2 separate regions of the Homo sapiens genome follow, and region 2 is linked to region 1. Evidence: fine-mapped expression QTL. A gene starts in region 1. The other region holds a variant in brackets. All regions are shown on one strand. Distances are between the middles of the regions.

Evidence for each region. PIP is the estimated chance that this variant, and not a neighbour inherited with it, causes the effect. A credible set is the group of variants that fine-mapping cannot tell apart.
Region 2: its variant is the best candidate, but not a certain one, in a credible set for the expression of ERH in whole blood (TOPMed, PIP 0.71).

What each region holds. Positions count from the first base shown.
Region 1 is chr14:69,396,160-69,401,535 of GRCh38, forward strand. ERH (ERH mRNA splicing and mitosis factor) reads right to left here and starts at 2,140. Exons shown (of 4, transcript NM_004450.3): 1 at 2,072-2,140. The coding sequence starts at 2,074. It overlaps SLC39A9 (solute carrier family 39 member 9), which reads left to right and starts at 2,533. Exons shown (of 7, transcript NM_018375.5): 1 at 2,533-3,306. The coding sequence starts at 3,211. RefSeq lists enhancers at 1,140-1,648, 1,649-2,156, 2,358-3,557, 2,486-2,825 and a silencer at 2,149-2,389.
Region 2 is chr14:69,368,796-69,374,171 of GRCh38, forward strand. It overlaps a transcript of GALNT16 not described here. Among named protein-coding and RNA genes, the nearest start is that of ERH, 27 kb to the right of the region's middle. The variant C/T (reference allele first, on the strand shown) is at 3,272.

The DNA.
Region 1 (5,376 bases):
TCAAACTATTCACCTTTTTCCTTCTCTTCTGCTGTACTAGTATTTTTCAGCCAAAAACCAGAAAACAAAAATTTCCTAACAGGAACCCTAAACTGTTTTGGAATAACATAATTTTTTTTTGGAGACAGTTTTGTTCCTGTTGCCCAGGCTGGAGCGCAAAGGCGCGATCTCAGCTCACCGCAACCTCTGCTTTCCGGGTTCAAGCGAATCTTCTGCTTCAGCCTCCCAAGTAGCTGGGATTACAGGCATGCACCACCATGCTCGGCTAATTTTGTCTTTTTAGTAGAGATGGGGTTTCTCCATGTTGGTCAGACTGGTCTTGAACTCCCGACCTCAGGTGATCTGCCTGCCTCGGCCTCCCAAAGTGCTGGGATTACAGGCGTGAGCCACCGCGCCTGGACAAAATGATCAGAATTTTTAACCATCAAATTGGAACAGAAATAGCTGAAGCCCAGACTTTCTGAATAAACAATGGAAAAATAGTACATTTAACATGACATGCAAAACCAAGGGTTATCATACCCTTCTCTCCCCATCAAGAACTAAACCACTTTGACTAAAAGTTTCAGAGGGTTTGACATAAAAACGGAACTTGGTGACAAGAGACGAAGGATTAACTCTCACCTGTAATAACCTGAGCAGTCAAAGCCTTTGTTAAATCGATTTAAAAGCCACAGAAAGCATCATATTAGATTATTTGTTATACAGAAGTCTTTGTAAGCTAGCTACTCAAAAAGTTTCAACGAGTCATTTAAGAAAAAATAATTTTGTAGAAACCACGTGCATTCTTGCAACAGAGGTTGCCCTATACACTAGCTATCTCAACTGCTACTATAATAATTGTATTCCAATTCTAATGCAAATTAAAGGACTAATTTGAAAGGGTAAGAATGGAAAAAGCTATACAGCATGTTGCTTTTTATATCTAGTCTTAAAATGAACACCGGGCAAAGTTTACTATTTTCAGTACTTACTGCCCAAAGACAAGGATTAAAAATCACTAAGAACATAACATGATACATTTTAAAAACTGTGGTCAAGTGGTTATCATTTTTAAATGGCAATGCTTTCCTGCTCAAATTCTTTACAGATTATACCACCTCTCAAGCCAGTTTTGGTCACTTTCTTCGAATTGGAGCTTACTGATCATCCCGGTTGGGTTCTAATAGAGCTGGTCTCTGAGCTGAGCCTACTTTTCAGCCTCCAGCCCCAAGAGGATATAAATACAGATAAGTACAGGATCGAGGGCTGAGGGACGCGCCACACGCAATACCTAGAGGTCTCAAAAACAGGAAAAAAAAAAAAAAGGCAGAGCACAGGAAAACGAAAGCTGAAAAAACACTGCAAAGCAAATACGTCCTCTCCTGGCCCACATGCTGGGTATAGCTGGATCTGTCAGCTTCGAGAATAGTTAGACAACCCTGGCCCATTGTTCCTACAGCAGGCTAGAGCATTTGGAGGGAAAAATACCATATCCGGCAGGGCCCGGTGGCTCACGCCTGTAATCCCAGCACTTTGGGATGCCGAGGCGGGTGGATTGCTTGAGGTCAGGAGTTCGAGACCAGCCTGGCCAACATGGTGAAACGCCGTCTCTGCTAAAATAAAAAAATTAGCCGAGCGAGGTGGCGGGCGCCTGTAATCCCAGCTACTAGGGAGGCTGAGACAGGAGAATTGCTTCAACCCAGGAGGCAGAGGTTGCAGGGGTCTGAGATCCCGCCACTGCACTCCAGCCTGGGCGATAGAGTGAGACTCTCTATCTCAAAAAACAAAACACCTCCCCCACGTCTCCCTCTACCGAGTAACAATCGGGAGAGAGTTCATCCTCAGGCCCAAGGCACGCCGGACCCGAGCGAGCAGGCGGGCGCGCAACCGCAGGGCGGACCGGGGCTCCGAGGCCTAGAGTCAGGCCTGGCGTCCCTGCGGCGGGAAGAAGGGTCAATCCACCGACTAGAGTGGCGGGGAGCATCACGCGGCGCTGCATGGGGCTCGTGGGGAGGGGAAAACGTATGGGGCTGGGGTCGCTCTGGAGGCCGGGGACTCGGACTCGGGTAGCCGCGGAGGCCTTTCTCACCATCGCGCCAAACTCTCTTCGCTACAGCAGCTGCCGACACCGCCGCCGTTACACGAGCTTAACTACAACGCCGCTAACAGCCAATCCTCGCGAGAGGAGCCGCCGGAAGTCGTCGAAAGTGCAACGCAAAAGAGCCTTTTGGATCATAGAGGCACAGTCACTTCCGGCAGCTAGAGCAGCTACTGACTCTGTTTCAGCCATCTTCGATAAAGGCAAAAAGGTAAGGGAAAGTTTCCAAGCTTTAGGAAGAATTATTTTTTTTCAAGACGCTGTCTTCCGTACTTTCGTTATTAAACATACGGCTCAAGTGATCACCGGTATAGACAGTGACATCAGACATCTTTCATTAGCCCTACTCAAAAATGGCGGCAACGTAAGTATCCTGGGCCGGAGGTCGGTTGTAACCCGGAAGTGCCTTTGTAAAGGAGGGGGTGGTTAGACAATCCGGAAGTGGATGGAATGAAGAGATGCCACTTGGCGGCCATGGCAGCTGTAGTATCGGCGACTCCGGGTCAAGGCCCGGTCGAGTGCAGTACCATGGGCAGCACCGGGTATAGGGCAGAGACAGCTTTGTGTCAACTTTGCTGCTGAACCCCTAGGACCCATCGTTAGAGACCTGCAGGACTCCTTTCCTCATCCCAGGCTCGGAGGAGAGTTTGCTGGGACTGGTGGGCTGGTTTCCTGCTCTGGGGGGCGGATCACCTTCGGGGCCGCCTCTTGGAGACAGGGGCGCCTAGGGAACGAACAGGTTCGCTTGAGTCACTTACCCGCCGCCGCCTAAGACATTGTGCCACCCTCAATCCGACAATCGAAGAAATCGATCATTCGCACATTTTCCCCATTGACTTTTCCCATCTCTGTTAACCCACGAGAATCTAATGACTGGCATCTGAGAACCCAGAGCCTGGGACCTTAGATTGCTGTAAGCTTTCTCTGGTGCTAATATCAGCAAAAAGGGTCTGTTGCCGGGTACGTTCAAGAGGAAGGTGCCTCGTGAACACATCTGCTGGTGGGAAGGCCTAAAGAACTGGAAAGCCCACTCTCTTGGAACCACCACACCTGTTTAAAGAACCTAAGCACCATTTAAAGCCACTGGAAATTTGTTGTCTAGTGGTTGTGGGTGAATAAAGGAGGGCAGAATGGATGATTTCATCTCCATTAGCCTGCTGTCTCTGGCTATGTTGGTGGGATGTTACGTGGCCGGAATCATTCCCTTGGCTGTTAATTTCTCAGAGGTAAGAAATTCTCAATTTTCTGTCAGCTGTCAGGATGGCTGTGAGATAGTAGTTTTAGTTGCAAAGGGAAGCTGCTTCCCTAGTTAAATCTCAAAGCTGAAGGTCTCATTAAGAAAGACTATCTTTTTTAAAAGATACATGACACTTAATAATAGAAAGAAACCTCATATTCATTAGTGGAATTCTTAACCTGGGGTGGATAGATATTCCACGGAAGATCCTGGAGTATTCTGAATCCCCTAGAATTGCTTACAAAAATTTGAGGTTCTGTGCATTTACCTGGAGAGAGGCACCATAACATTTCTTTTGATTCTCAGAGGTTTCATGGAATCAAGATTCCAGATTGTTATCAAGAAAATAAATGGAGGGCTGGGCGCGGTGGCTCACGCCTGTAATCTCAGCACTTTGGGAGGCTGAGGTGGAAGGATCGCTTGGGCCCAGGAGTTCTAGACCAGCCTGGGCAACGTGGCGGGACTTTGTCCCTACAAATGAGGCTGAGGCAGGAGGATCGCTTGACCCCAAGTGGTTGAGGCTGCAGTGAGCCGTGTTTGGGCCACTGCACTCCAGCCTGGACAGCAGAGTGAGATCCTGTCTCCAAAAAAGAAAAAAAAAGAAATGGAGAATGTTATTTTTCTACATGAACTGAAATCAATATGATAACTTCCTTTTGAGAAAGTCAAACACACCTTTCTGAGGAAAGCTGTTTTGTTTTTTGGATGTCTGTACTAGAATGAATGTAAGAAAAAACTAAGATTGTTCTTAACTCACATTTCCTTTTAAAGAAGGGGAGCCTTGGAATTGATATTCTGAAGTTGTTTCAAATCTATTTGCTTAGCAATGAATTTTTGGTTAATACGTTTTGACATTTTCGTTAATTTGATTGGCACCTTGAACAGATGTTAAGCGAGGGTCCCGGGAAGAGGGATAGATGAAAGCACTGTTCAGTGAACATGCTGATAGGTCCTTTAGGTAGGCAAAAGGAATTCACGAAGTGCACAGCGTTCAAAGATTTAGGGGGGAAAAACTACTACATTCAAAGGGAACAAGATTTCATGAGTTTGTCCTAGAGTTCAGCAGTAAAATAGGCCCTAGTTTCAGTGCCATTCCTGAAAGTACTTTCAAAGGAGGCCTGAAGTAGAAAGGAAAGGTATAAATGAAATATTAAGTACACCTTGAAGAAACCTGAGGAAGAGGAGACATTACAGGTGAAAATAGCCTGTGGGTGGGAAAGAAGGTGGGACAAGGTGTTGTCAGTTTGAGGAAAAGTAAAGCCCATAGCCAGATGGAACAGATGCTTAAATTGTTGTTGTTCTTTTTCTGTTTCCTTTTTAATCTGTACCCCTCAGCATCTAATGATAGCATTTTAAAAAATTACGTGCATTACCTAACTTCACTTAAAAAACTCAAGCTGGGTGCGGTGGGGCGCGCCTGTAGTCCTAGCTACTCAAGAGGATAAGGTAGGAGGATTGCTTGAACCCAGGAGTTGGCCTGGGCAACATTGAGACTCTTTCTCTTAAAAAAAAAAAAAAAGAAAATAAAAATCAGTGACATATAGATGAGGAAACGGAGACTGGATAGGTTCATGAAGTTTGTTAGAATCAGAAGAGAGGTATTTTTTCAGTCTAGCTTTTCTGACTCAGACTAGTTCGTAGCCACTAAGCATTTCGGCAAAGGTACATGGTACATATACATGGTAGCCTGTGTGCCAAATCCAGCCTGCAGACTGTTCCATTAGCAGAAGTTTATTATTGTTGTTCTTTACCAGTATTTCCTAGAGGCAAAGGTTGGGTCGGGCTGAGTAGCAGCTGTTAGGCACAGTCCTCCTTGCCCTTGAAGCCTGTTTCACTTATTTGGGTTACCTGCCTGCCCAGTACTTTGTGAACCTGCTATGTTTCCTTTGACATAACCATATTTTCTTATAACTATATTAGAATTGAATTGACATTAGTAGGGCTGACATGTGTGAGATTTGGGTTGGTTTGTGTATTTTTAAACATATTGAAGTAACATTTATGAATAATCATAATTAATTCTGATAAGCAACCAGTAAAACTTTTTATTTCTATAAAA
Region 2 (5,376 bases), 27 kb before region 1:
GACTAGAAAGAAGGAATCTTTCTAAAGTGGTAAAACTCGAAGACAATGGGCATCCCTGTGGGAAAGAGCTGGCCTGTGATGGGAATGACACTAACACTTCAAGGGAAGCAGGGACCAGAAATAGCAGGCATTCCTGTTGCCCATCAGCTTCTGGTTCCACTTGATCCTAAGACTCACCTGTGCTCTGGCCATTCCTGTAATTTGTTTACACAACTCAATAAACTATACCCCTCACTCTTGTTGCCTGAGCTAAGTCAGGATGGGTTTCTGTCATTTGTAACGAGAGAATGATGACTGACTAACTGATCGAGAGTCACCCTGAGGTAGGAAGATCAATTAGGAAACTATTGCAGATGATAACTGATGAGGGCCTGATGAAGGCACTGGGGTTCTGATTAGGGCCCAAACAGGAGGACACATAGGAATGGAAGGAGGGATCATGGCAGACGGTCTTATTCCATTATATCCCCAGATGTTAACATTGTGTCTGGCACATAGTAAGTGCTAAGTAAATATTTGTGGAAATGAATAATTAAATAAATGAATAGAGGCAGAGAGACAAAGATAAAAGCAAGACTTGCTGACCAACTGGATGTGGAAAGTGAGGAAGAAAGAAATGAAAGCTTGTACCCAGACCTCAGCCGTGAAAGGTTGGCTGGCTAGCAACACCATTCAAGACAGAGCTGCTTTGGATGGGGTCCATGAGGAGGGGTGGTGAGCTCCACTGTGAACCACTGGCATGTGTCTTCAAGGCAAGCGGCTGATCTTAGGGAACGGAGTGGTTAACTTTTCTTCAATAGGAACATCCATGTTGTTGGCCTCCCCAGCTCTGTCCACGTTACCTACAGAGTGACGCAACCACGTGCACTCAAAACTAGAGAAAGACCTACTTTTACAAGTAGGCAATGAACACAACCACCTCAGGGACTAGTGGCTCCTGATTAGGAACAGTCTAAAGTTAGCATGACAAAATCAGCTGTCAACTGTCAGCTTAATGAGTCTTCCGACTCCCTGAAGGAGCTCTCTAAGGTCCCCCTGAGGACAGCTTACTTCCCAACCAGACTGGGGAAGATTGTAGAGATGAGTGGAGAGGCCTGAAATTGGGAATTCAGAAAACACATTTGCTCTTCTCCTTTGGGGATGCCCACACTGAGTGAGGCTGGGCACATTTGGCAGCTTTTTATAAACTGGCATTGGAAAGCTGTCAGAGGTGGGAAATGCCCCCTTTTCTATTGGCATTCTTGTGTCCAGTCAGAAGCAGTCTAGGGAGGTGGTTAAGCAAGGGTTGTTAAATGTCACCAGAATTTAGTTTGAAGTGCTGACTCTGTTTACATCCCTGGGCGAGCTCATTAGCATGTGTCAGAAATGCAGCTTCAGTGGCCCCAAACATTCCCCACTGCTCCCAGGCTTACAGAACACCAGCCTGACATAGCAGAGCTACCTCGGGCTTCCTTGCAAGCTCCGCCTGCCAAGCAACCAGACAAGTCGTCCTCAACAAAGGCTTCTTTTGTGGCCCAAATATGCCCTGCTTTGATAATGCATCATTCCCTCTTCTGCTCAGGCTGAGGGGAGAGGGTGGGGCAGCGTATCCAGGTGGAGTGGAGCAGTGAATGTGGTCTGTGAATGGTAAAGCCCTATGGAGGAGTAAGGATCATGGATGCATTGTCAGTCTTAGAAGTGTTCCTACTGGCTTTAGCACTACCGCTATGCAGTAGCCAAGATAGGATATAACTTTGTGATCGAATCTTTTATTTTTTTTTAACTTTTCATTATGGAAAGTTTCAAGCATATGAAAAAGAAGAGGTGAAACCCACCACCCAGGTTATCAATTTATGGCTAATCTTGTTTCATCTACACCCTTCCACTGGATTATTTGAAGCACATCTCATATATGTCATTTTATCTGTAAATATTTCAGTATACACTCTAAAAGAGAATTTGAAAAAATAACCACAATGGCATTATCAAATCTAAAAATCACAATAATTCCTTAATACTGCTGGAATCTTATACTGATGGGCAAAGGAGCCTCCTGGTGCTATCTTCTCCTTTGCCCTCCATCTCCAACAGGAACAGTGCGCCAAGTGCAAATCAATGCAAAAGGCAAGATCCCACCTATGCTAGGGTCATTACTGCTTTGTGAGCAGCTTTAGCAATTTAAAAATATTTCTTGAAATAGCTTGATACAATTTTAAAAACCAAATAAACAGTCCTTATGTTTTTATCAGATCTTTTGGCCCTTACCAAAGGGCCAAGGACAGCCTATTAGAGAATCAAAGTGCTACAAGGATAGCCTATTAGAGAATCAAGAAGTGCCGGAAGTTGAACAAGATTCCTTGCCTGAGCAGCTGGTGACTGGACTGCCCTGGGGTCCTTGGCCTCCACTAAGATACAGGGGTAACTTCACGGTAACATGAATGTTTTTAGACTTCTTTCTGGTAGTATTGTATTAATAGTAATTTTTTTATTTTTTTTTGAGATGGAGTCTCACTCTGTCGCCAGGCTGGAAGTGCAGTGGTGCGATCTCAGCTCACTGCAACCTCCCACTCCCTGGTTCAAGCGATTCTCCTGCCTCAGCTTCCCGAGTAGCTGGGATTACAGGCACGCACCACCACGCCCAGCTTATTTTTGTATTTTTTTTTAGTAGAGACAGGGTTTCACCATGTCAGCCAGGATGGTCTCGGTCTCCTGACCTCGTGATCCACCCGCCTTGGCCTCCCAAAGTGCTGGGATTACAGGCGTTAGCCACCACACCCGGCCTAACAGCAATATTAAATATTGCTGGGGAATACATTTGATTAAGTATAACGTACATATAGAAAGTGTGCAAAACTCTTAAGAGTTTGTTTTGTAATAATAGTTATCATTGGCCAGGCGTGGTGGCTCACGCCTGTAATCCCAGAACTTTGGGAGGCTGAGGTGGGTGGATCATGAGGTCAGGAGTTGGAGACCAGCCTGGCCAATATGGTGAAACCCCATCTCTACTAAAAATACAAAAATTAACCGGGCGTGGTGGCGTGAGCTTGTAATCCCAGCTACTTGGGAGGCTGAGGCAGAAGAATTGCTTGAAGCCGGGAGGTGGAGGTTGCAGTGAGCCGAGATCGTGCCACTGCACTCCAGCCTGGGCGACAGAGCAAGACTGTCTCAAAAAAAATAAAAAAATAAATAATAAATAATAATAAGTTATCATTCACCTGGCTCTACACTTACCCGAGGATTAAGTTAAACAGTGAAAATGAGGTGGAAACAGCATAACTGTTACTAGGACAGC[C/T]GGTCACATAAATGTGGAGTTACCTTTATGGATGAGCAGGATGAGTAGGGCATCCCTGTGCAGGAGTGGCCTGCAGTGAGGAGTTAGAGCCCAAGTAGGAAGAGGAGCTTGTCTAGGCAGAAGGTGGCTGGGGGTTGGAGTGCCTATCAAAGCTGGTGATGGGCAGGGGGAGGTGAGGCGGTTGTCCTTGTTGGGAAGCCTGAGTGATCCATCCACAGGCTCTTGGGGCAACATACTCCGTGTTGGCTGCAAACACTGACTCACTGATACGGGGTCTGTTGACATAGAATCTTATACAAACTGTGGAATCCCAATATCTACACTGGTCTGTTGCAGGAATGCTGGGTAGTATTCAGAGATGCTCACCATTCACACATAGGTCACAAGGCTCAAATACATAATTGTCTTAGTAGTGATCATTAGCCTTTTTTTTTTTTTTTTTTTTTTGAAATGGAGTCTTGCTCTGTTGCCCAGGCTGGAGTGCAGTGATGCGATCTCGGCTCACTGCAACCTCCACCTCCCAGGTTCAAGAGATTCTTCTGCCTCAGCCTCCCGAGTAGCTGGGATTACAGGCGCATGCCACCATGCCTGGGATCTTCAGCCTTTTCTAAGAAGGAAAGAAGTAATTTCTCAATCCAAGTACCTGAAAAGATTCAGAGGGCCTGGCTTAAGAGAAGCAAGGGTATCAAGGATACGTTGAGGTATCAAGCAGGACTTTGATCTCTAATCAACTTCATTCTAATAAGCATTTGTCCTCAACAGCCTTTCAGTACCTGCACCTTCAAATCTTTTCCTAACACTCTGCAAGAAACATGAGGTTTCCTGCCCTCTGTCATTATACCTGCAACCTCCCATTGGGATTTGCAAAATAATTGGGATGAGCATTGTGGTAATCCTTCCTGGAGTTGCATTGTAGGTGGAAGTTGGTGACCATACTTCTAACAGGTCTCTGAGCTCACTGACAGTGTCAAGGACAAAGTGATCTCTAGAATGGCCAGGGGCATTGCAGGGCAAGGACCCAGAACTGTGGGATACTCTTCAAACTACTCACCATGGAACAGACACTAAAAGACTCAACTATACTCTTTTTCTCCAAGGCTAGAGAGGCAATATAGTTGGCCAAGCCCAAGGGTCCTGTAACAGAGTAGGTACTCCACAACAAATGCTTGTAGGTAAAGGTGGGAGTTAGTATTACCATGACAACTCCTCCAACCCTGGGCTTCCAAGAAAGAAACCATGATCTATCCCATTTCTCTTAAATTACAGCCCACACACTTTAACTTCAAACATCTATTGACAAGAATGCAGGGCCTGTCTCAGTTAAGCGATGTCATCAGTTCTCATTAGCCTCTTCATAGTCTCTTGAAAAGCATAAAGAAAATTACCTCTGGCACAGAAAAGGCTTTTAAACCAACCTTTTCACAGTATGTCTCAAACTGAACATCCACTTAAGTGTATAATTACAAAAAAGAAAGGGTATGCTAGATATGTTGACACAGGATCTCTAAATGTAGCTGAAGGAGTTACTATTATCTTCAAAGGCAAAACATCTTTCTTAGGCTTACAAGACAAACTATGTAGTGGAGTAGACAGGAAAGCAAATCACTAAGAGATTATCTCCCTCTAAGTCTTCTTTCTCTTTTTCTTTTCTTTTTTCTTTCTCTTCTTTTTCTTTCTCTTTGTTCTTTTCTTTCTCTCTCTCTTTCTCTCTTTCCTTTTTCTTTTTTGACACAGGGTCTCAATCTGTTGCCCAGGCTGGAGTGCAGTGGCACAATCTCGGCTTGGCTCACTGCAGCTGTGACCTCCTGGGCTTAAGCAATCCTCCCACCTCAGCCTCCTGCATAGCTGGGACTACAGGTATATGCCACCACACCCAGCTAATTTTTGCATTTTTTGTAGAGATGAGGTTTTGCCACGTTGCCCAGGCTGGTCTCAAATTCCTGAGCTCAAGTGATCTGCCCGCCTCAGCCTCCCAATGTGCTGGGATTACAGGCGTGAGCCACTGTGCCTGGCCCTCCTCTAAGGTATCACTGAAATTCCCCTCAGACCATCATCTAGCTTCTTTCAACTTCTCCATCTTTCAAGTGCCCTCATGATTTCAGCCT